2 linked regions of the Homo sapiens genome follow. The protein of the gene in region 1 interacts with the protein of each later gene in a biochemical or structural test. Each region holds a gene or a part of one and is shown on either strand. Other genes may lie near its edges. The genes, in order: NPW and NPBWR1.

Evidence for each region.
Region 2: the proteins of NPW (region 1) and NPBWR1 form a complex in vitro, tested with the Homo sapiens proteins (one study listed by BioGRID).

Annotation. Positions count from the first base shown.
Region 1 is NC_000016.10:2,011,574-2,022,907, reverse strand, and holds NPW (neuropeptide W preproprotein), read right to left. Parts: upstream 3,124-11,334; 5' UTR 3,007-3,123; coding exon 2,596-3,006; intron 2,376-2,595; coding exon 2,289-2,375; 3' UTR 2,153-2,288; downstream 1-2,152. UniProt on the Homo sapiens protein: Plays a regulatory role in the organization of neuroendocrine signals accessing the anterior pituitary gland. Stimulates water drinking and food intake. May play a role in the hypothalamic response to stress.
Region 2 is NC_000008.11:52,932,449-52,944,392, reverse strand, and holds NPBWR1 (neuropeptides B/W receptor type 1), read right to left. Parts: upstream 5,212-11,944; 5' UTR 5,027-5,211; intron 4,683-5,026; 5' UTR 4,486-4,682; coding exon 3,499-4,485; 3' UTR 659-3,498; downstream 1-658. UniProt on the Homo sapiens protein: Interacts specifically with a number of opioid ligands. Receptor for neuropeptides B and W, which may be involved in neuroendocrine system regulation, food intake and the organization of other signals. Has a higher affinity for neuropeptide B.

The sequences.
Region 1 (11,334 bases):
TGGAATCTGCAGTCTGGAGCAGGCGGTGGGGAAGGGGGAGGAGGCAGTGGGAGGGGCGGTGAGAGCAGACAGAGCCAGCCCTGCCAGAGCACGGGTATCGTCCCATAGGCAGTGGGGAGCCCTTGAGGCGTGGTGTGGTGGTGACGAGGTCAGGACATCCATGTTCTTAGAGGTCAGGTTCAGTGAGGAACAGGGGCAGGAGTGGGAAGGAATGAGCTCGCAGGAGAATGAGTTGCCCTGTGAGGTGTGTGACCACCTCTTCACCCAGCACAGAGCCGGAGGGAGGGCTAGATGGAACCAAGGGCTCCATAAGAATTGGCTGTTGGCCGGGCGCGGTGGCTCACGCCTGTAATCCCAGTACTTTGGGAGGCCAAGGCGGGCGGATCACGAGGTCAGGAGATCGAGACCATCTTGGCCAACATGGTGAAACCCCGTCTCTACTAAAAATACAAAAATTAGCTGGGCGTGGTGGTGGGCGCCTGTAGTCCCAGCTACTCGGGAGGCTGAGGCAGGAGAATGGTGTGAACCCGGGAGGCGGAGCTTGCAGTGAGCGGAGATCATGCCACTGCACTCCAGCCTGGGCAACAGTGCAAGACTCTGTCTCAAAAAAAAAAAAAACAAAAATTAGCTGGGCGTGGTAGTGGGCACCTGTAATCCCAGCTACTGGGGAGGCTGAGGTGGGAGAATCATCTGAGCCGGGGAGGCAGAGAGGCGGAGGTTGCAGTGAGCCGAGATAGTGCCTCTTCAGCATGGGCTGGAGACTCCGTCTCAAAAAAAAAAAAAAAAAAAAGAAAAGAAAAAGAATTGAAGGGGTGGAGATAAAAAGCACCCACATTTGGGAGACAGACACACCTTGGAGATGGAAAGGACCTACCAGTGAGGGGAGGGGGGCTTCTAGAAGTGGGGGTGGGGAGCTGGTTCCACAGAGGCATCCTGGAGCCAGGCCCAGGACCACCTCTCCCCCAATGCTTGCTGGGTGGCCCCAAGGGGGGACCCTGCCACATGGCCACAGGAGGGCTCCAAGGGTGGGCTGCATCAGGGCATGTGACCTTGGTGGTTTGGGGTCCAGGACAGTCATTGGAGTCCCAGGGAAGATTAGAGAGGGTTGAAGAGGCAGCGGGAGGGAGGAGGGGCCCAGACCCTTGGGAAGGGAACTGGAGGGGGCCTGGTGGATGGAGGTCCTCGGTGTTCAAGATGGCAGGGCACATTTATGTGGGGGGGCTGGAGCCAGTGACCAGAAGTGCATGCAGAGGGGGATAAAAGGCAGAGAAGCAGGCCGGGTGCGGTGGCTCACACCTGTAATCCCAGCACTTTGGGAGGCTGAGGCGGGCGGATCACGAGGTCAGGTGATCGAGACCATCGTGGCTAACATGGTGAAACCCCGTCTCAACTAAAAATACAAAAAATTAGCTGGGCGAGGTGACGGGCGCCTGTAGTCCCAGCTACTCGGGAGGCTGAGGCAGGAGAATGGCGTGAAACCGGGAGGCGGAGCTTTCAGTGAGCCGAGATTGCGCCACTGCACTCCAGCCTGGGCGACATAGCCAGACTCCGTCTCAAAAAAAAAAAAAAAGGCAGAGGAGCAGCCAGGGGCAGTGGCTCATGCCTGTAATCCCAGCACTTTGGGAGGGAGGCTGAGGTGGGCGGATCACCTGAGGTCAGGAGTTCAAGACCAGCACGTCCAACATGGTGAAACCCTGTCTCTACAAAAATACAAAAATTAGCTGGGCATCATGGTGGGTGCCTGTAATCCCAGCTACTCAGGAGGCTGAGGCGGGAGAATCGCTTGAACCTGGGAAGTGGAGGTTGCAGTAACCCGAGATCGCGCCATTGCACTCCAGCCTGGACAACAAAGAGAGACTGCATCTCAAAAAAAAAAAAAAAAAAAAGCAAGAAGCAAGGTGGGGCTCAGGTGGAGGGGCCCCTCCTCCCGGGGCATGACCCAGAAGAAGGGGACCAGGGGTTCTTAATCAATCTGCGGAAGCCTTTGGCTAAGGGAGGGAGGGGGTGCCGGGAGATCCAGGTTTGAAATGAATGCTGAGTGCCCGGCGCTTCCCCTGGTCGGCGAGGGAGGGGCCCCTGACATTTGCCAGGGCGTGGGCGCGCCTGTCTGCGCCCTGAGCTAGACGGCAAAGTACACAAGCAGACGAAGGGGTCGCATGCGGGGGCGCAGGAGTCAGGCGGATTTTATTGACCGGACGGCAGGCGGGGTCTATGAGCGGCTCCTGGAAGCGCGCGGCCACTCCTCCTGGGTCAGGCGCGGAGGCGCCACGGGCGGGCGGGGGACGCTGTCAGAACGGTCCGGGGGCCAGGCAGGGCAGGCCAAGGCGGTTTGCTGCGGGGTCCACCGCTGGGCGGGAGACGTCTCTCCGAAGTCTCTAACGAGAACACAGCAAGGCCGTGGGGAGGAGGCTGTGGCCCTCCAACCACCGCCCCCGGGTGCCAGGGTCGAGCCTGCCCAGGGAAAGCTCTTCTGGGCGCGGAGCAGGGAATGGAAGGGCCCGAGGGTGCCCCCTGAACGCGCGGCTCCGTGCTCCGGCTCAGACCTCCCGAGACCCCCTTGCCCGCGGCGGTCCAGGCCTCTCCCCTCTCACGTACCTGGCCAGCTCCGCTGAAGTCCAGGGACTCCGGTTCCAGCGCAGGCTCTGGGGCGCGCGGGCTCCGGGGCGCACGGACGGGGATCCCTGCCTGGGAGCTCCTGCGTCGCGTCTCCCACAGCTCCTGAACCCACGAGGGCAGCAGGAGAGGAGCCTCGCGGGCTGCGGGTTCGGGGGAGAGGGTGTCCCTGGCCAGGGGCCCGGCGGCCGCGCGCAGCGCGCGGCGCCACAGATAGGGTGAGCGACGCAGCCCCATGAGCAGGCCAGCGGCGCGGCCCACCGTGTGGTAGCGGGGACTCGCCACGTGCTTGTACCACGCGCCGGAGGGCAGCGGCAGCAGGAGCAGAAGCAGCAGCAGTGCCAGCCGCGGCCGGCTCGCGGGAGCCCCCCGCTCCCCTGGGCGCCACGCCAGGGCGCTCGCGTCGACGGCCGCCCGGCGGGGCGGGCCACGAACCGGCTCGGCTGGGTTTGGGCGCGCAGTGGAGTTGGGACGCCCAGGTACCGGAGCGCAGGAGGCTGGAGGCGAGCCGTGGGTCCCCTGCAGGCCCAGCTATAACCGCTCGGTGGCCCCGCCTCGTTCCGCCCCCTCAGTACCGCTGGGCTCCCCAGATGGGGGGAGGGACGGAGGGAGGAGAGGGAACCCTGGCAGCTGGCGGGGGACGTGGGTACTTGAGCACCTCACTGAGTGGGCCGCTGGCTGGAACTGGGCTCGAGGCTCCTCTGAGGGGACACGTCCCATTCTCTGCCTGCTCAGCCTCCTCCCTCTAGGAGTGGAAGTGCCAGGGAGTGGGTACTGGGAACACTGATGAGGGAGTAGGGCTGAGGGATGCCCCTTTAGCCAGACTCCTGCCGGTGGGACGACAGCAGAGCGAAGGCCCAGGTGCAGGCAGAGCTACAGTGGCTATTGCAGGAGGGCTGTCGGGGGCCTTCAGCACCATTCAAGACCCCTCTGGGTGAGTCCCCCCAAGAGTTGTCCCTTGTCCTTGCCTAGCATAGCTCCCAAAGCTGTCCCCACACCCTGTCCTGTCCACTGCCACCCCCAGCTTCTCCCCACCAACCCATCTCCCCGCAGAAGCCTTAGAAGCCTCATGTTGGCAACACCAAGCCATCCGTGGGGTCTGCAGTTCTGTGAGGCTTCCAGGAGAAAAAGTCAGCCCCTCCTGGAACCTCTACCCCTGGAGGGGCAGGACAAGGCCTTGCAGACCTCCAGCGCCTCCTCTCTGGTGATGGTCCCCCAAGACCACTTTATCCAGCCAGTCTCAATTTTTGCCTAAACCAACAGCCTGTGGCTTTGCCTGCCTCTGTGCGTCTGTGCCTAACACCTACTCATCCTTCAAGACTCCACTTAAATGGCCCAGATCCTTGGCCGGGCGCGGTGGCTCACACCTGTAATCCCAGCACTTTGGGAGGCCGAGGCGGGCGGATCACCTAAGGTCATGAATTCAAGACCAGCCTGGCCAACGTGGTGAAACCCCATCTCTACGAAAAACACAAAAAATTAGCTGGGTATGGTGGCAGGCACCTGTAATCCCAGCTACTTGAGAAGCTAAGGCAGGAGAATCGCTTGAACCCGGGAGGCGGAGGTTGCAGCGAGCCAAGATTGCATCATTGCACTCCAGCCTGGGCAACAAGAGCGAAACTGCATCTTTTTTTTTTTTTTTGAGACGGATTCTGGCTCTGTTGCCCAGGCTGGAGTGCAGTGGCGCGATCTCGGCTCACTGCAAGCTCCGCCTCCTAGGTTCACGCCATTTTCCTGCCTCAGCCTCCCGAGTAGCTGAGACTACAGGTGCCCGCCACTACGCCCGGCTAATTTTTTGTATTTTTAGTAGAGACGGGGTTTCACCACGTTAGCCAGGATGGTCTTGATCTCCTGACCTTGTGACTTGTGATCCGCCCGCCTCGGCCTCCCAAAGTGCTGGGATTATAGGCGTGAGCCACTGTGCCCGGCCGAAACTGCATCTTAAAAAAAAAAAAAGGCGCAGGGCCAGACAGTCCCTCAGAATTTCCCTCTGTGGCCATCTGGGCTTAACAACCCCCTCCCAGAGGGCAGAGCCTGACACAGTCTTTCCTGACCTCCCAGCAAGGGTGAATCCAGCCCTCCCTCAGCAACCATGTCAGTCATGGGGCAGCCCCTGGGTCCCAGACACCAGGGATCTCGTTTTGGGTCATCATGAACTATCTCATCTTGACCTCCAGACAATGTCATGAGTGGAACTATTATTGACTCCACTCACCAACGAGTAAACTGAGGCCCAGGGAGAACTGACCTGCCCCAGATCATGTTGGGTAAATGGTGGAGGTGAGATACATCCTAGCACCTGAGCCCAAGAGCCTCAGCTTGGGGGAACAGGGTACTCCTGTCCAGAAGGGCACAGAAAGGCTGGGGGCAGGCTGGGCACAGTGGCTCATGCCTGTAATCCCAGCACTTCAGGAGGCTGAGGCAGGTGGATTACTTGAGGCCAGGAGTTCAAGACCAGCCTGGCCAACATGGCAAAACCCCATCTCTATTAAAAATACAAAACTTGCCAGGCACAGTGGCTCATGCCTGTAATCTCAGCACTTTGGGAGGTCGAGGCAGGCATGTCACGAGGTCAAGAATTTCAGACCAACCTGACCAACATAGTGAAATCCCATCTCTACTAAAAATACAAAAATTAGCCGGGTGTGGTGGCATGCGCCTGTAGTCCCAGCTACTCAGGAGGCTGAGGCGGGAGAATTGCTTGGTCCTCGGAGGCGGAGGTTGCAGTGAGCCAAGACTGTGCCATTGCACTCCAGCCTGGGTGACAGAGTGAGACTCCATCTCAAAAAAAAAAAAAAAAAAACTTAGCCGGGCATGGTGGCACACACCTGTAGTCCCAGCTGCTCGGGAGGCTGAGGGAGGAGAATCACTTGAACTCGGGAGGCAGAGGTTGCAGTGAGCCACGATGGGACCACTGTACTCCAGCCTGGGTGACAGAGCAAGACTCCATCTCAAAAAACAAACAAACAAACAAACAAAACAGAAGGTCTGGGGGCAGAGCCAGACTCCCACTCCTGAGGCGTGAGGGTCCCCGGTGAGTCTGGTGAGCCTGACGAGGGTTAGAAGCAGCAGCCCTCTCCAGGAAGGCCACACTGAAGTGGCGAGACGCCAGCCCTGCTTGATAGTCGCAGCTGAGGGGAAGAGGATAAGGACCTCGGCCTCTCCTGCCTCAGTTTCCTCATCTGTAAACTGGGGGTAAAAAAAGTGGCCACTTCATCATCTTGTTGGCACTGATAATCCAGTGGTGGGTCTGGGAGCTGAACCGTGCCTGGTACCCAGTAAGCACTCAATGAACGCTGTGGCTAGGACCTATCCTTGCTGCACCAGAGGCTGACCACCCCCAGCCTGTCAGGAAAACACTGTGACAGGGGCAGAATGGGGGATGCAGATGGAGCTGTCTGCGCCGCCTGGAGGACCACGGGGACCAGAGGCCCTGCAAGAAGCTATCCCCGCCACGCTCCCCCAGGGCCCCTTGTCCTTGACAGCTGCCTGGAGTGTGTGGTGGGCGGGTAGTGCAGCACGACATGGGCCAGAGCCAGGCCCCATCAGGGTCCCTTGGCGCTGCCACCCGCTCCTGGCTAAGAGGACGTGGGTGTCTCTGGACCCCTGGGGGGACTCCAGCCAGTCAGGGGAGGGTCCAGGACGCCCCCTGGAGGTGGCCCGGGGAGCTTCTGCAGGGGGAACTGTGGAAACTGATCAATGAAAGTCTATGCTGGGATGGAAGTCCCTGTGACAGCAAATAGAAGCAGTGGAGATTGCGCCACTGCACTCCAGCCTGGGCAACAGAGGAAGACTCCTTCTCTCTCAAGAAAAAAAAAAACAAAACAAACAAACAAAAAAAAAACAGCTGGACATGGTGGCTCATGCTTGTAATCCTAGCACTTTGGGAGGCCAAGGCAGGTAGATCATGAGGTCAGGAGTTTGAGACCAGCCTGGCCAACACAGTGAAACCTCGTCTCTACTAAAAATACAAAAATTAGCCAGGCGTGGTGATGGGTGCCTGTAGTCCCAGCTACTCGGGAGGCTGAGGCAGGAGAATCACTTGAACCCGCGAGGCAGAGGTTGCAGTGAACCAAAATCACACCACTGCACTCCAGCCTGGGCGACAGAGCAAGACTCTATCTCAAAAAAAACAAAACAAAACAGAACCACAACAACAAAAAAACCAGCAGTGGCTCCTCTACCTTGTTTATTGCTGTGGCCCAAGGGAGTGAGAGTCGCAGGACGCAGGGAAAGGTCACTGGGAACAGAGGCACGGGGAGGCGTCTGTTGGGTGGAGTGTCCGGAACACGTGGCAGGGGGAGACCAGGACTGGGTTAGAGGAGCAAAACACAGAACCTTAAGGGTGTCTGTGGGCTCCCTTTTCAGGCGGCAGGAGGAAGGCCTCTGTGTCCTGCCCAGCCTGGTGCCCAGGAACAGGACCTGGTGACAAAGGCTTCCTTCTCCCCACCTCCAGGGGTCTGGAGTCACAACTCTCCTTGGGGAGGAGGTGACGAGAGCCAGCCCTGCTTCTTGAGGCTCACATCTCAGTTCCTTGACACCAGTGTCCGGCCTAGAAACCCGTGAGACACTTGCTTAAGGCCAGGACCACGCCTGCCGCAGGCACAAAGCCTGGCCCCGAACAGGAACGCCCTGGTAAGGAGGAGATTAATGAGCAAATCTGTTTTGTCATCTTTAAAATTATTGGCCAGGGCGTGGCACAGTGGCTCACGCCTGCAATCCCAACACTTTGGGAGGCTGAGGCGGAGTTAGAGACCAGCCTGGGCCATATGGCGAAACCCCATCTCTACCAAAACAAACAATGACGAAATATATATATATATTAGCTGGGTGTGGTGGTGTGTGCCTGAAGTCCGAGGTAGAAAGTTCCCTTGAGGCCTGGAGTTCGCAAGGCTGCAGTGAGTCGCGATCTTGCCACTGCACTCCAGCCTGGGCGACAGACCCTGTCTCAAAAAGTAAATACATAGCTCGGGCTCAGTGGCTCATGCCTATAATCCCAACAGTTTGGGAGGCCGAGGTGGGCGGATCACTTAAGCTCAGGAGTTCAAGACCAGCCTGGCCAACACGGTGAAACTCCATCTTTACTAAAAATACAAAAAAATTAGCTGGGTGTTGTGGTGCACGCCTGTAATCCCAGCTACTCGGGAGGCTGAGGTATAAGAATTGCTTGAACCTAGAAGGCGGAGGTTTCAGTGAGCCGAGATTATGCCACTGCATTCCAGCATGGGCGTCAGAGCGAGACTCCATCTCACAAAAAATGAAAAAAAAAACCAAAACAGTAAATATATTAAATAATTGGCTAGGCTCAGTGGCTCACACCTGTAATCCCAGCACTTTGGGAGGCCGAGGTGGGCAGATCACAAGGTCAGGCGATCGAGACCATCCTGGCTAACACGGTGAAACCCCGTGTCTACTAAAAATACAAAAAATTGCCCGGGTGTGGTGGCTCACGCTTGTAATCCCAGCACTTTGGGAGGCCGAGGCGGGCGGATCATGAGGTCAGGAGTTTGAGACCAGCCTGGCCAACACAGTGAAACTTTGTCTCTACTAAAAATACAAAAATTAGCTGGGCGTGGTGGCAGGCACCTGTAATCCCAGCTACCTGGGAGGCTGAGGCAGGAGAATCACTTGAACCCGGGAGGCGGAGGTTGCAGTGAGCCAAGATCATGTCACTGCACTTCAGCCAGGGCGACAGAGCAAGAGACCACCTCAAAAAAAAAAAAATTAGAAAAAAAAGAAAGAAAGAAAAGAAAAAGAAAAAAAAGGAAAAAAAAAAATAATAATAATAATTAGGGCTGCGCCTGGTGGCTCACGCCTATAATCCCAGCACTTTGGGAGGCTGAGACAGGTGGATCACAAGGTTAAGAATTCGAGACCAGCCTGGCCAACATGGTGAAACCCCATCTCTACTAAGAATACAAAAATTAGCCAGCCATGGTGTTGCATGCCTGTAATCCCAACTATTCGGGAGGCTGAGGCAGAATTGCTTGAACCCGGGAGGCAGAGGTTGCAGTGGGCCGAGATGGTGCCACTACACTCCAGCCTGGGCAACAGAGCAAGACTCCGTCTCAAAAAAATAAAAAATAAATAAATAAATAAATAAAATAAAATAATTAATGTTGTCAAGGCAGTATACATTATAAATCAAAGGCTGCTTGCTATAAGGAAGAGAACAAAGCTATCCCTGCCCACCCTTCACACCCTGCTCCTACTCTCCAGAGACAGCTACTTCCAACTCTTTTAGCTGTTAGCTGTTTCTTCTAGTATTTATCTCCAAATGTTTGAATCATAAGCATAACTACTATTTTGTTTTGTTTTGTTTGTTTTGTTTTTGAGACAGAGTCTCACTCTGTCACCCAGGCTAGAGTGCAATGGTGCGATCTCTGCTCACTGCAACCTCCGCCTCCTGTGCTCAAGAGATTCTCCTGACTCAGCCTCCCAAGTAGCTGGGATTATAGGTGCCTGCCAAAACGCTCAGCTAATTTCTGTATTTTTAGTAGAGACAGGGTTTCGCCATGTTGGCCAGGCCGGTCCCGAACTCCTGACCTCAGGGGATCCGCCCGCCTCGGCCTCCCATAGTGCTGGGATTACAGGCATGCGCCCCTGCGCCCGGCCAGAAACAGAAAAACTCGTAGCTGCAGCACTACTGACCTTTGCCATCCTGTGCACTGAGAATCTTTAGTAGCATCCCTGGCCTTCACCCATGTGTGTACGCAGAACAGTAGCCCCCCAAAGATGTTCGCCCCCAATCCCTGCAACCTGTGAATATTTATGCCACATAGTAGGAGGGAATTAGGCTGTAGATAAAATGGTTGATTAGAGGCAGGGTCTCACTATGTTGCCCAGGCTGATGTCTAGTGGCTATTCACAGGCGTGATCCCACTACTGATCACAGGAGTTTTGACCTGCTCTCTTTCCAAACTGGCCCAGTTCACCCCTCCTGAGGCAACCTGGTGGTCCCCTGCTCCCAGGAGGTCACCAAGTCGATGCCAAACTTAGTGCAGACACCTGACTGACACAGCCCACTATATCCTCAGAACTCCTGGACTGACACAATCCTCCTGCCTCGGCCTCCCGAGTAGCTGAGACTACACGTGCGCACCACCACACCAGGGAATATAAAATTAAGGTTGCTAATTAGCTGGCTTTATTTTATTTTATTTGAAACAGAGTCTTGCTCTGTCACCCAGGCTGGAGTACAGTGGCATGATCTCCGCTCACTACAACCTCTGCCTCCCGGGTTCAAAGCGATTCTCCTGCCTTAGGTTCCCAAGTAGCTGGAATTATAGGCGCCCACCACCATGCCCGGCTAATTTTTGTATTTTTAGTAGAGATGGGGTTTCACCATGTTGGCCAGGCTGGCCTCGAACTCTTGACCTCCAGTGATCTGCCTGCCTCAGCCTCCCAAAGTGCTGAGATTACAGGCCTGAGCCACCACATCAGGCCAGCTGGCTTTAATAGGAGATTAGCGGCTGGGCGTGGTGGCTCACGCCTGTAATCCCAGCACTTTGGGAGGCCAATGCAGGCGGATCACCTGAGGTCAGAAGTTCAAGACCAGCCTGACCAACATGGAGAAACCCCGTCTCCACTAAAAATACAAAATTAGCCGGGCGTGGTGGCGCATGCCTGTAATCCCAGCTACTGAGGAGGCTGAGGCAGGAGAATTGCTCGAACCGGGAGGCGGAGTTTGCAGTGAGCCGAGATTGTGCCATTGCACTCCAGCCTGGACAACAAGAGCGAAACTCCACCTAAAAAAAAAAAAGCTGGGCGGGGTGGCTCACGCCTGTAATCCCAGCACTTTGGGAGGCCGAGGCGGGTGGATCATGAGGGCAGGAGATGGAGACCATCCTGGCTAACACGGTGAAACCCTGTCTCTACTAAAAATACAAAAAGAAATTAGCCGGGTGTTGTGGCGGGTGCCTGTAGTCCCAGCTACTCGGGAGGCTGAGGCAGGAGAATTGCTTGAACCTGGGAAGTGGAGGTTGCAGTGAGCCAAGACTGTGCCACTGCACTTCAGCCTGGGCGACAGAGACTCCATCTCAAAGAAAAAAAAAAGATTGGACCACTGGCCTCCCCCAGAGTCAACTCTGAAAGACAGAAAGCAGCCATGAGCCAAGGAGTTCGGGCAGCCTCTAACAGCTGGAAAAGGCAAGGAAGCAGATTCTCCCCTGGAGCCTCCAAATAGGAATGCAGTGATACTGACACCCTGATTTTAGCTCAGTGTGACCCACGTTAGAGTCTGGACTCCAGAACTAAAGATAATACATTTGTGTGTTTTAAGCCAAGTTTGTGGCCTTTTTTTTTTTTTTTTTTTTTGAGATGGAGTCTCACTCTGTTGCCCATGCTGGAATGCAGTGGCGCAATCTTGGCTCACTGCAAGCTCCACCTCCCGGGTTCACACCATTCTCCTACCTCAGCCTCCGGAGTAGGTGGGACTACAGGCGCCCGCCACCACACCAGGCTAATTTCTTTTTGTATTTTTAGTAGACATGGGGTTTCACCGCGTTAGTCATGATGGTCTTGATCTCCTGACCTCGTGATCCACCTGCCTCAGCCTCACAAAGTGCCAATTTCAAGCTGGGATTACAGGTGTGAGCCACCGCGCCCAGCCAAGATGTTGAACTTCTTACATCCTTACAATAACTTTTCCCAGTTTTCTTTTTTTTTTTTTGAGATGGAGTCTCACTCTGTGGCCCAGGTTGGAGTGCAGGGGCGCAATCT
Region 2 (11,944 bases), on another chromosome or scaffold:
GCTAAATTGATCCACTTCCTTGTATCTCACTTTCTTTGTATGTAAAATGGGGGCCGAAGTGCCAGACCCAAAGCTGTGCTAATAAAAGACCATTATGGGCAGAATTCTCTGATCTCTTTCTTAATGTGCATAAGCATAGATGATTAATATCCAAGGAGAGTTTACTGTTTTTTTGTCTTGCTGTTGTTTTCCCAGCATGTTGCTGAGGAAAGAAGGGTTTATAATAAGTTCGTGAGTTTTTCAGGTGAGATTCTCCACCTTGCATATTTGTGCTATGTCTATGCATATTGCTGATAGCAATGTGTATACTAATAATTGAAGCAATTTCTCTTCCCTTCTCCCCCTCCACATAGCTGCTCAAATATTTAAGAAATGAGGCTTTTGATGGTATGATAGAAGTTTAGCATCCTTTCTCTGCCCAGCATAAGTTCTGGAATCTCTGTGTTTATCAGCAGCTTTGCATCATTTTCACAATCAACCAAATTAAGGGGTGGGGGTGTTCATTCTTAATTTTGTCCTGTCAAATACTTCTATTTATTCATTGAGTATTCATTGGATCACTTTTCCAATGAAGGCAGTATTTTTAAATAGTAACACTGCACAAATGCTAAGGTGACTTAATTGTGGATAACTTGTTCTCAGAAAATAGAATGTTCACTTATCACACAGAATGTTTCAGCTTTTATTTTAAACTGAGCTCCTCTACAATGGACTACAGAGTTTCTGCGTTTGTCAAGAGAAAACATAAGCATACACATTACATAACTGCACTAAATTAAGTAAAAGCAAATAGACATTTTTAACTATTCAAAGTGGTAAAACCAAACCATAGAGTTTACACAGAAACTGCAAGAATTCAACACAGTGTTAAAACCTTTGCAATACAATGATGTGAATAAATTCTACTTTTGCCTGGCTTATGTGTGTATTTATTCAACCGATTACCCAAGACATAAAAAGGAAGCCTGAGATATACAGTCTACATGCTCGTATGAAGGGCAACGACCTAGAAATAATGATACAACAGTTTATCCAGTGATCAGAAAGCCCAGGAGGAACTCAACTGCTGAGACCTGATTAATCCCACAGGCATACTCAGAAGCCAGTCCATGCCTTGCTGGGGATGAACAGCAATGTCAGCCCGTGTATTTTTCCAGCAGTCATCTCCATAGATTCCAAGAAGGCTCGAGGTCAATCTACTGTAGGGATGAAACAGTGGACAGATGGATCACTCAGCTGTCCCCCATCTGAGTCCAGTTACTGAGCTTATTAAGACAGATGAGATACTGAATCCAGACAATCACTCCAGCTGTGTTTGTAGCCAAATGTTCACCTTACTCTTTGTCCATCACCTTAGGTAATCTAGAAGTTACTCTAAGTTTAAAACTTTAATTTTGAAAAGTTACAGAGGATTCATGAGATAATTTTGAGAGTTTAAGGAAAATCAATAGAATGTTTCCTAGAAATTCGAAAGATATTAAAATGAATTCCAAGAAGCCTCCGAAGCCGGCCAGCAGAGAGAGGCCTGTTCAAATGCCATGAGGTCCACCACTCGAAACTCATTGTAGATGAAAACTTTCTTTTAAACAATTTACTATTATTTGCCACCCAAGACAGAAGGTTTTTTAATGTATATTTTCTAAACTGATGGCTATGAATTATTTCAATGTTCCTAAAAACTCTGAGAGCTAAGAAAGCAATTCTTATTCACCAAAATTAGAGAGGGGGTTTGCTTCCCCCCATTCCAAGGGGGAGTTTTTTCCTTCCAAATATTTATTAAAAGCTATTTTCAACCTAAATAATTGAGAAATTGATTGAAGATGCCAAACTAAGCAAACAAAATGTGCTGCAACACTCACATTTTTTTTTCTCACACATGACATAGGAAACAAACATTTGTAGAAATTTTCATCCTGTTTGGACTTCATCCTAAAGATTAATACCTTTTAAAACACCATAATCAATTACCAGACTTTGCTTAGGGTTCGGCCCTCATGTCTAAGGCTAAACTGCAGAGGATTGGGCAAACCCAATGCCAGTCCTCTCTCTTAATCCACTTTGTCTTCCATATGCAGAGACAAAAACACAGGTAGGATGCTGGCCAATCTCCCTGGTGACTCCAGGACCAGTATTTACCCGGTTTACCGGGACTACCTACCGGATGCCGTCTACAAGTAAGGAATAAAGCCCAGGTAATCCACAGCTCCCTGTGAAAAGTACAGCAGAGAAAACCTGAAGCCGTCGGTCATCCCTGCTTCCTGCTCTCCCTAAGGCGGAGCCAAGGAAGCAGAGGAGAAAGGGAACACAAGAGAATAGATCGCATTTCTTTTTATCTTATTTGATCTTCATGGCAACTCGTGAGATTAGGACATGTACATTATTTATAAAGTTTTCAGTCCTGAAAAACAGTACACACATGAACAGTTACAACAAACTGATCTAAGTAAGACAAGAGACGAGGCCAATTGGGGGAATGGGGGTGGGGCTTGGCATCCTCTATAAGCAACGATGACCAGTGTGCCACAGCGCTGTGAAGCGCGCTCAGCCGGAGTGCTCCACCACAAAGCCCCGCGATCCTCCGACGCTAAGCACTCGGCCGCTGGCTCCTCCAGGGGGCGCCGGAACCGCGCGCCCGGGCTACTCCGGGTTCCTTGCTCCGGGAGTCTGACATTTTCAGGGGAGATCACGGATAGGAAAGGGAAAAGGCAAAGAAAAGGAGTAGGGGCAGACAGAAAGAAGGATCACTATTCGTATCATATTCTAGGCAGTCACTGCCAAGCGCCAGCCTCTTTCCCCGCATTTCATGCCTCCGCAAACGCGCGCACACCACACACACACACACACAGGTGTATACACACTCCGATGGGGCATCCCGAGTTGTTGTGTTTTCCCCAGTTGAAGAGGCGCTGGCGGCCTCGGCAGCGGTCCCCGCCCGCGGCGCCAGGCCAAGCGGGTCTCACAGGGGTGGGCGCCAAACGCGCGCGCCTGACCGTCTTCCCAGAGCGCGCGGAGGACAAGGGGACCCGCCGGGGCTGTGCGCCAGCTACAGCAGGGGCCGCGCGGAGCCGACGCCTGGGGGCGCCGGCAGCGTCCTCGGGCCTCCCTTCGAAGGCGCGGAGAGTTCCGACTCCAGCCAGGTTCCAGACTGCCAGGGCTCGGGTGGGGCAGCAGGGAGCAGGGCAGGGAGGGGGCGGTTCCCAGCAATACCGCCCTCCTCCTCTACCCTCCTCTTCCTCCACCTCGGCTTTAGGGAGCCCTCAGTGTGGCGATCTCAGCCTCAGTTCTCCTCACCCGGCATGGCCGCGCATCACCTGGAGGGCTTGGCAAGGTCAACCTGCGGGCACAGTCGCAGCGCTTCCGATCTGCTAGGTCGGGTATGGGGCGCGAGTCGGTTTCCCCAGGAGGCCTAGGCGGCCTGTCTGGTCCCGCACTCTGGCGCCGGCTCCTCCCTCGCTGGCCAGGAGTGGCGGGCAGTTGCGGAGCCGGACGCTGGGGGAGTCAGGCTGCCGCGCGGCAAGTTATCAGCTGGCGGAGGTTCCTGCGGAAGCTGGCGTCCAGGAAGGCGTAGAGGAAGGGGTTGAGGCAGCTGTTGGCGTAGCTCAGGCTGGTGATGAAGTAGGAGATAGCGATGACCAGCGGCGTCTGCGGGAGGTCGGTGGTGAGCGCCACCACGGTGCTCAGGTGGTAGGGCGTCCAGCAGAGGAGGCACACCGCCAGGATTGCCACCACCAGGAAGGTCACCCGCTTCTTGGCGCGCTCCAGGGCCTTGGCGTGGCTGTCCAGCCGCATGGCATGCAGCCGGCACAGCAGGGTGGTATAGAGGACACAGATGGTGGACACGGGGATGGCGAAGCCCAGCACGAGCGTGTAGAGGCGGCTCGCGCGCCACCAGAAGGCCTCGGGCTGCGGAAAGACTAGCACGCACTGGCGCCGGCCCTGCTCGTCGTCTAGCCGGGCGAAGACTGCGAAGGGCAGCACGACGAGTGTGACGATCCCCCACACGGCCAGGCTCACCGCGCGCGCGGCGCTGTAGGTGCGGCCGGCCACCCGGCGCGACTCCGCAGTGGCCAACACCACCAGGTAGCGGTCGGCGCTCATGACGGTGAGGAAGTAGAGGCTGGAGAAGGTGTTGTACTGGTCGATAGCCACGATGAGCTTGCACATGAGCTCCCCGAAGGGCCACTGCCGCAGCAGGAAGTCGGCGATGTTGATGGGCAGCACCAGCGTGAAGAGCTCGTCGGCGATGGCCAGGTTGAGGATGAACAGGTTGGTGACGGTCTTCATGCGGGGCGCCCGCAGCAACACGTACAGCACGGCGGAGTTGCCCGCCAGACCCACGGCGCAGATCACCGCGTAGACAACTGGTACAGCCACCGCCAGCGGCGCCGGCAGCGGCGCCAGAGTCGACGCGTTGGAGCAGCTCAGCGCCGGGTCCGGGCCCGATGCGTTGGCGGGCCAGGGCTCCGAGAACGAGGCGTTGTCCATCTCAACGAGGGCAGAGGAGCCGGCGACCTGGCGTCCCCCAAGGACGCCCTACGGAGCTCAGCGGTCCTGAAGCCCGGTTCTGCACGGACCTGCTCGCGGACGCTCGTTTCAGCTCTCCAAGCCGTTCTCTGGTTTTTCCGGAGGAGGGGACCGTTCCCAGCCACCCCACGGCCCAATGTCGCCGCGGACTCACGGGGCTGGAAAGAGGAATTTAAAGCATAGGTTAGTTCGTCGACGTGTAACTTTAGAAATAGGCGCGGTCCCGAGGAGGGGTGGGGGTGGCGCCGCGGCGCCCCAAACCTCCTCCACGTGAGCGCTCTCTGCTACCTGTTGAAATCTCACTTCTACCAGTTGAATACATCAAACGAAATGCTAGAGAGAGAAGAATCCTCCATAGGAAAAATGCAAACCCTTCTCCCCTCTTTCAGGAAACTTCCGTAGACCCAGGTTACCCCACAGAATCCCGCAGTGGCAAGCTTCGGTCTCCCCAGGGTCTGTGCGCCCTCAGTAACAGCAAGCTCAACAGCAGTCTTTACCTTACCTGGCTGGCTGGGGAAGGGGTCTGCCTTTCCTGGAGCTGTCAGGAGAAAAGCCCGCCGGCTGCGGGGAGGCTGAGACGCCTGCCGGCTGGGTGTCCGCCTCCCCCTGTCTGCCTCCCCCGAGTTCGCCAGAGTCCGCAGCTCGCGTCCCCGCCGGTCCCTCCCGCGCGCCTGGAAGTGCAGGGATGGCGCAGCCGCGACTGCGTTCCACTGCCCTGACCGCCGCGCCCACCCCCACACCCCAAGTAAAATGGTCTTAGAACAGAGAACAGAAATTCCCCCAAATTTAAGGGATTCCTTTCTTCCATCCCAGTCGTGCAACCTCACTCCATCTGAAATAATAGAAAGCTCTCCTGTTAAGAATCGAATTTAAGGAAAACAAAGTTAGGGTGTAAGTGATCTATTTTTAAAGGAGAACAATGTAGTGGAGGCGCCTGTTCCATTTTTTATACACCGTAACACAAATAGGCTAATGTAATGTGAAATCTGAAAGGAGGAAAAAGTGAGTGCAATTTTATAATGCAAATCACCTGTTTTCTGCTACTCTGGTCTTCAAGGGGATAGAAGATTGTTAGTATGTTTTCTAAAACTACTTCTACTTCTACTTTTGTGTAAGTAAAGACTTGATTAGTAAAGACAAACGGCTTCCGCAAAGCCTTTTAGGGAACCATGACAATGCGTATTTCATAAAACGTTACAAGTTGTTCAACACACTCTCTACTTATCCACACACTTGCCCGATTCTCCTGCTAATGAGAGCTATCCTGCGATCGCAGCGGAGAGTAGCCAAGGAAGGACTAGCAGGGGCAGTCTTGAACTCCCCTGTCGCTATTTCCCTGGACTTTGGATTCTTTCTCTAGGAAGGGAAAATCATCTTAGGCTCCTCACCAGTTCCCCTAAGAATCGAATGAAATAAACTAAATATTGGTTATTTCCAATTTCTGCTTTTTTTTTTTCTCCACATTTCCTTTAGGAGAGAGAGCAAATTAAAACACGAGATTATATCCTCTAGTAAACTACCCTTCCACAAAAGCAGGCGAAGCCCAAATAAAGTGTATTTTTGGTCCTCTAGGATGCATCTTAGAGAAGGGGGCCTGAGATCCAGAGAGACCTAAAGTCGGCAGTAGAAGACTGTGGGGCCAGAAATACAGTAGCCCCCCCATACCTATGGGGGATAGGTTCCAAGAGCCCCAGTGGATGCCTGAAACCATGGATAGTACCCATTGCGGTCAATGGGAACATGTTTCTGTTCTTCCATCCAAAAATGATGCAACAGCAAAACTAGCATGCATTTCTTTTTTCTTCTTCACATTTTCGTGGATAGATTTGTTTTTAGTAGATCTTGGCAACCTCTGCATATGATTTTTTTTCTTTCCTTATTAAGTCCAGAATTTTTACCTTTTAACTTAAAGGAGGCATTTGCAGCTTCTCTTTGGCATATCTGAATTGCCAGCATCACTTCTCTTGCACTTTGGAGCCAGAGAGAAATAAGGGCAAAAAGTCAGTAAAATCAAGGCAACTTGAAGACACCACACTGGTCATTGCCACAGTCATCTAATAACCCAGATTGTGAAGTGACTAACAGGTGGATATTGTAGACAGCAGGGAAACGCTGGGCAAAGGGAGGACTCACTTTCTGTGGGAAGGAGTAAGATGGCTGGATCTCATCACGCCAATCAGAAGTCAACACAATTGAAAACCTAGGAACTGTTTATTCCTGGAATTTTCTGTTTAATATTTTTAGACCACAGTTGACCACGAGTAACTGAAACTAGGGACTCCAAAACCACTGACAGGGGGATCCACTGTCCAAAAGCTCCCTGGAATTTACCTACTCAATTATCTTTTTACCAGGATCTATACAAATCGGCTCCCCTGCAGTTTCACACTTTCTGTGAAACAAAATAACAGATGATTCTTAAGCTATGTCCGTAAGAAACACTATATGATAAAACACCATATAATGTTAAAGAAAAAATATATATAATAGAAAATCTCCAAACGGTTGAAGATGATCAACTATATACACATACGTGTATACATACACATATATACACACACGTGTATATACACACACATATATACACACGCATATATACACGCACATATACACACGTGTATATACAGACACATATGCACGTGTATATACACACACATACACAGTGTATATACACACATATATGCACACTTGTGTGTATATACACACACATATGCACACGTGTATATACACATACACACGTGTGTATATACACACATATATACACACATGTGTGTATGTGTGTATATATGCACATGTATATAGTTTATACACGTGTGTATACACGTGTGAATGTTTGTATACACATATGCACATGTGTATATACGTGTATATACACGTATGTATACACGTGTGTCCATATATGTTTATGTGTATATATACACATGTATGTATATAGTTGATCATCTTCAACCGTTTGGAGATTTTCTAGCCTTTTTATTGTTGACTTCCAGTTGAATTACACTGTAAACTGAGAACATACTCAATATGACTTCAATTCATAGATATTTTTTGAAACTTACTCCCCAGTATATAGTTATTTTCTAATTATTTCATGTGTACTTGAAAAATTGTTTTGCACTTGTTGGGTGCAAAACTCTACATATGTCAACTAGTCAAACTTACTATGTTGTTCAAATTTCTCTATTGATTTTTTTTCTTTTTTTTTGAGACTGGGTCTTGCTTTGTCACCCAGGCTGAAGTACAGTGGTGCAATTGCAGCTCACTGCAGCCTCAACCTCCTGGGCACAAGTAATCATCCCCTCTCAGCACCCCTAGTAGCTGGGATTACAGGTGCGCATCACCACACCAGGCTAATTTTTTGTATTTTTCGTAGAGGCAGGATCTCACCATGTTGCCCAGGCTGGTCTTGAGTTCCTGAGCTCAAGCGAACCACCAACCTCAGCCTCCTAAAGTGCTGGGATTACATGTGTGAGCCACCGTGCCTGGCTTCTGCTGATATTTTTATCTAACTGTCTCATTAGTTACTGAAAGGACGGGGGGGGGGAATTTCAATTAATGAGTGTGAATTTCTCTACTTACGCTTTCATTATATGCTGTCAACTTGTACTACGTAATTTTACTTTTTTTTTTTTTTGAGATAGAGTCTCACTCACTCTGTTGCCCAGGCTGAAGTGTGGTGGTGGGAGCCTGTGCCTCCCAGGTTCAAGTGATTCTCCTGCCTCAGCCTCCCGAGTAGCTGGGACTACAGGGGCACACCACCACGCCCAGCTAATTTTCTTTTTTTTTGTATTTTTTGTGGAGATGGAGTTTCACCATGTTGGCCAGACTGGTCTCGAACTTCTGACCTCAAGCGATCCGCCTGCCTTGGCCTCCCAAAGTGCTGGGATTACAGGCACAAGCCACCATGACTGGCCAATTTTCACTACATAATTTGATGCTGTTTTATTAAGGGTACACGAGTTTAAGATCGCTATATTTTCCTGTGGAATTTACCCTTTCATCTTGATAGCCTAATTATAATGATTTTATCATCATGTTATTTGATTTTATCAAATGATCATACATTTAACATTATAATATAGAATATATCACATATAATTATAATATTATCTGTATATATTACCTTTTATCATTATAACATCTTTAACTAGGTTTCTATTTCTTTTTTCTCTTTTTTTGTTTTTTTTTTTTTTGAGACAGAGTCTCGCTCTGTCGCCCAAGCTGGAGTGCAATGGAACGATCTTGGCTCACTGCAAGCCCCACCTCCCGGGTTCACGCCATTCTCCTACCTCAGCCTCCTGAGTAGCTGGGACTACAGGCGCCTGCCACCACGCCTGGCTAATTTTTTCTATTTTTTATTAGAGATGGGGTTTCACCATGTTAGCCAGGATGGTCTCGATCTCCTGACCTCGTGATCCGCCCTCCTCGGCCTCCCAAAGTGCTGGGATTACCGGCATGAGCCACCGCGCCCAGCCATTTCCTACTTGCTGTATGTGGCCACTTTTGTTTGATATCATTACAGCTACATTAACTGTTTTTCCATTAATATTATCATGGAACAGCTTTTTTTAAAAAATCTTTTTACTTTAAATCTTTCTATGTCTTTGTATTTAATGTGGGTCCCATGTAAGCATTAGAACATTTGTTTTAATCCAATCTGACAATGTCTTTGAAGTATTGAGTTCATAGTATATTAAATGTAGTTATAGATAGTATTAGGGTTGTTATGGTCTGAATGTTTTTGTCTCCCCAAAAAATTACATATTGAAAGCTAATCTTCAATTGATAGTATTTGGATATGGGCCTTTGGGAGGTGACTAGGTTCTGAGAACAGAGCCTTCATGAAGGGAATTAGTGCCCTTATAAAGGCGCAGAGTGCAAAAGCCTCCGAGGGTGTGAGGCACCACAGAGAGTCCCTGTGAAGCCCAACGCTCAGCAGAGCTGGGGTAGGTCAGCTCCCTTGACCCAGAGCAGTAAAGCAGCCAGTGTGTGACTCTAGCCCCAGGAAGCCAGGATGCAAGCCAGGTATCAAGCTGCCCTGGGAGCAGGGCCACCCAAAGCTGTGGAGACAGGTTCACCACATCAGTATGTCTGGAAGTGAGACATGGAACCAAAGAGGATTATTTTTAAGACTTAAGATTTAATGTTGGCCGAGCGCCGTGGCTCATGCCTGCAATCCCAGTACTTTGGGAGGCTGAGGTGGGTGGATCACTGAGGTCAGGAGTTGGAGACCAGCCTGGCCAACAGGTGAAACCTTGTCTCTACTAAAAAAAATACAAAAATTAGCTGGGTGTGGTGGCACACACCTGTGATCCTAGCTACTGGGGAGGCTGAGGCAGGAGAATCACTTGAACCTGGGAGGCAGAGGTTGCAGTGAGCGGAGATCACACCATTGCACTCCAGCTTGGGCAACAAGAGAGAAACTCTGTACCCACTCCCCACCCCCCAAAAAAAGATTTAATGTTTGCTCTGTTGGATTTTGGACTTGGGAAGCATTTGTTATGAATTTCTTCTTTCCTATTTCTCCCTTTGGAATGGGAATGTCTATCCTATGCCTGGTCCCACTCTTGTATTTTGGAAGCACACAACATGTTCAATCTCACAGGTTCCCATCTGAACAGCAGTTTGCCTCAGAATGAATTGTACTGTGAGTCTCCCTCATATCTGATTTTTAAATGAGACTTTGAACTTTAAACTTTTGAGTTGATGCTGGAACAAATTAAGATTTTGGGGACTATTGAGATGGAATGAATGTATGTCAGATATGAGAAGGACATGAATCTGGGGGGAGCCAAAAGTTTGAATGTTTGTGTCTCCCCAAAATTCACATACTGAAACCTAATCTTCAATGTGATGGTATTTGGAGGTGAAGCCTTGGGAGGTGATTATTAGGTCATGAGGGCAGAGCCCTAATGAATGGGATTCTTGCCGATATAAAAGAGGCCCCAAACAGATCCCTCATCTCTACTGCTTTGTGAGTTACAGCAAAAAAGATGGTCATCAGACTTCAAATTTGCCAGAACCTTGTTCTTGGACTTCCCAACCTCCACAACTGTGAGAAATAAATTTCTGTTGTTTGGAAGCCACCCAGTGTATAGTATTTCATTTAACAGCTTGAACAGACTAAAACAAGGATATATACCTGCTATATTCTTTGTCCTCTATTTTTCCTATCTCATTTCCATTGTGTTTTCCTTTCTTACATTATTTTGGATTAATTAATTTTTTTATTATTTACTTTATCCCACTCCATTAACTTATTATTTCTACATGCTTTAATCATTCTTTTAGACATACACTAGAGATTATAATATGTATCCTTAACTTACTAATAGATACTTTAAATTATTATTTTTACAACCTCCCAGAGAATGCAAAACCTTTTTAACACTGAACTCCATTTACTGCCCTCTTCCTTATGTGCAACTGTTAACATATATTCTAAATCTGCATATGTTTAAAACTCTATAAAACATTATTATTACTTTTAAACAGGAAATATGCCTTTATATTTACCCACACGTTTGTGCTCCCAGTGTTCCCTGCTCCTTCCTGCATTACTATGCATCCATCTGGTATCACTTTTCTTCTACCTAATGAATTCACTTAATATTTTAAGTGCATTCTGCTGGTGATAAACTTTTACTGCTATTGTTATTGTTTTGAAATATCTTTATTTTCCCCAACTTTTTTTTAAAGAAATGTTTCACTGGATATTAAATTTCAGGTTTGCAGTTGTTTTCTTTCAAGCGTTTGAAATTCTATGGTCTTTTTCTTCCACTATTTTTATTTTTAAAAGTGGTTTTTTATGTCACTGTAGCTCTTTGAAAGGTAATTTGTCTATTTTCTATTACTGTTATTAAAGTATATCTTTGATTTGGTCTTTCAGAAGCTACATTATGATGGGCTAGGAGTGATTTTCTTTCCATTTATCCAGGTTTTGGTTTATAGAGTTTCTTAAATCTGTGATTTAGGGGTGTGTGTGTGTGTTTGTGTGTGTGCATGTGAGTGTGTGTTTCAATTTTGGAAAGCTCTCAGCCCTCTCTCTTCAAGTACTGGTTCTGTCCCACTCTCTCTCGTCCCTCCTGCTGGGACCCCAAGTACATGCCTGTTAAGCCTTTATGCTTTCCTCTGTACTTCAATCTGGTCTTCTAAATCCTGACTTTCTTGGTTGCTCCCCAATGCCTTCAAACAGATGTTTTAGTTGCTTTCTTCTTCTTCTTCAGTTTTTATGGTAGTTCATAATAGGAGGACTTGTGTGATATAAGCTACCTCATTTATAACCAGAAGCAGAAGGTAAAAAGTTTTATATATAAAGTTCTCTAAACAGTAATTACCAAATGAAACTACATGCCTATATGTATGTTTCATACACATAATTACTTGGAAATATGTGACTTTATGGAAATATATATACCAA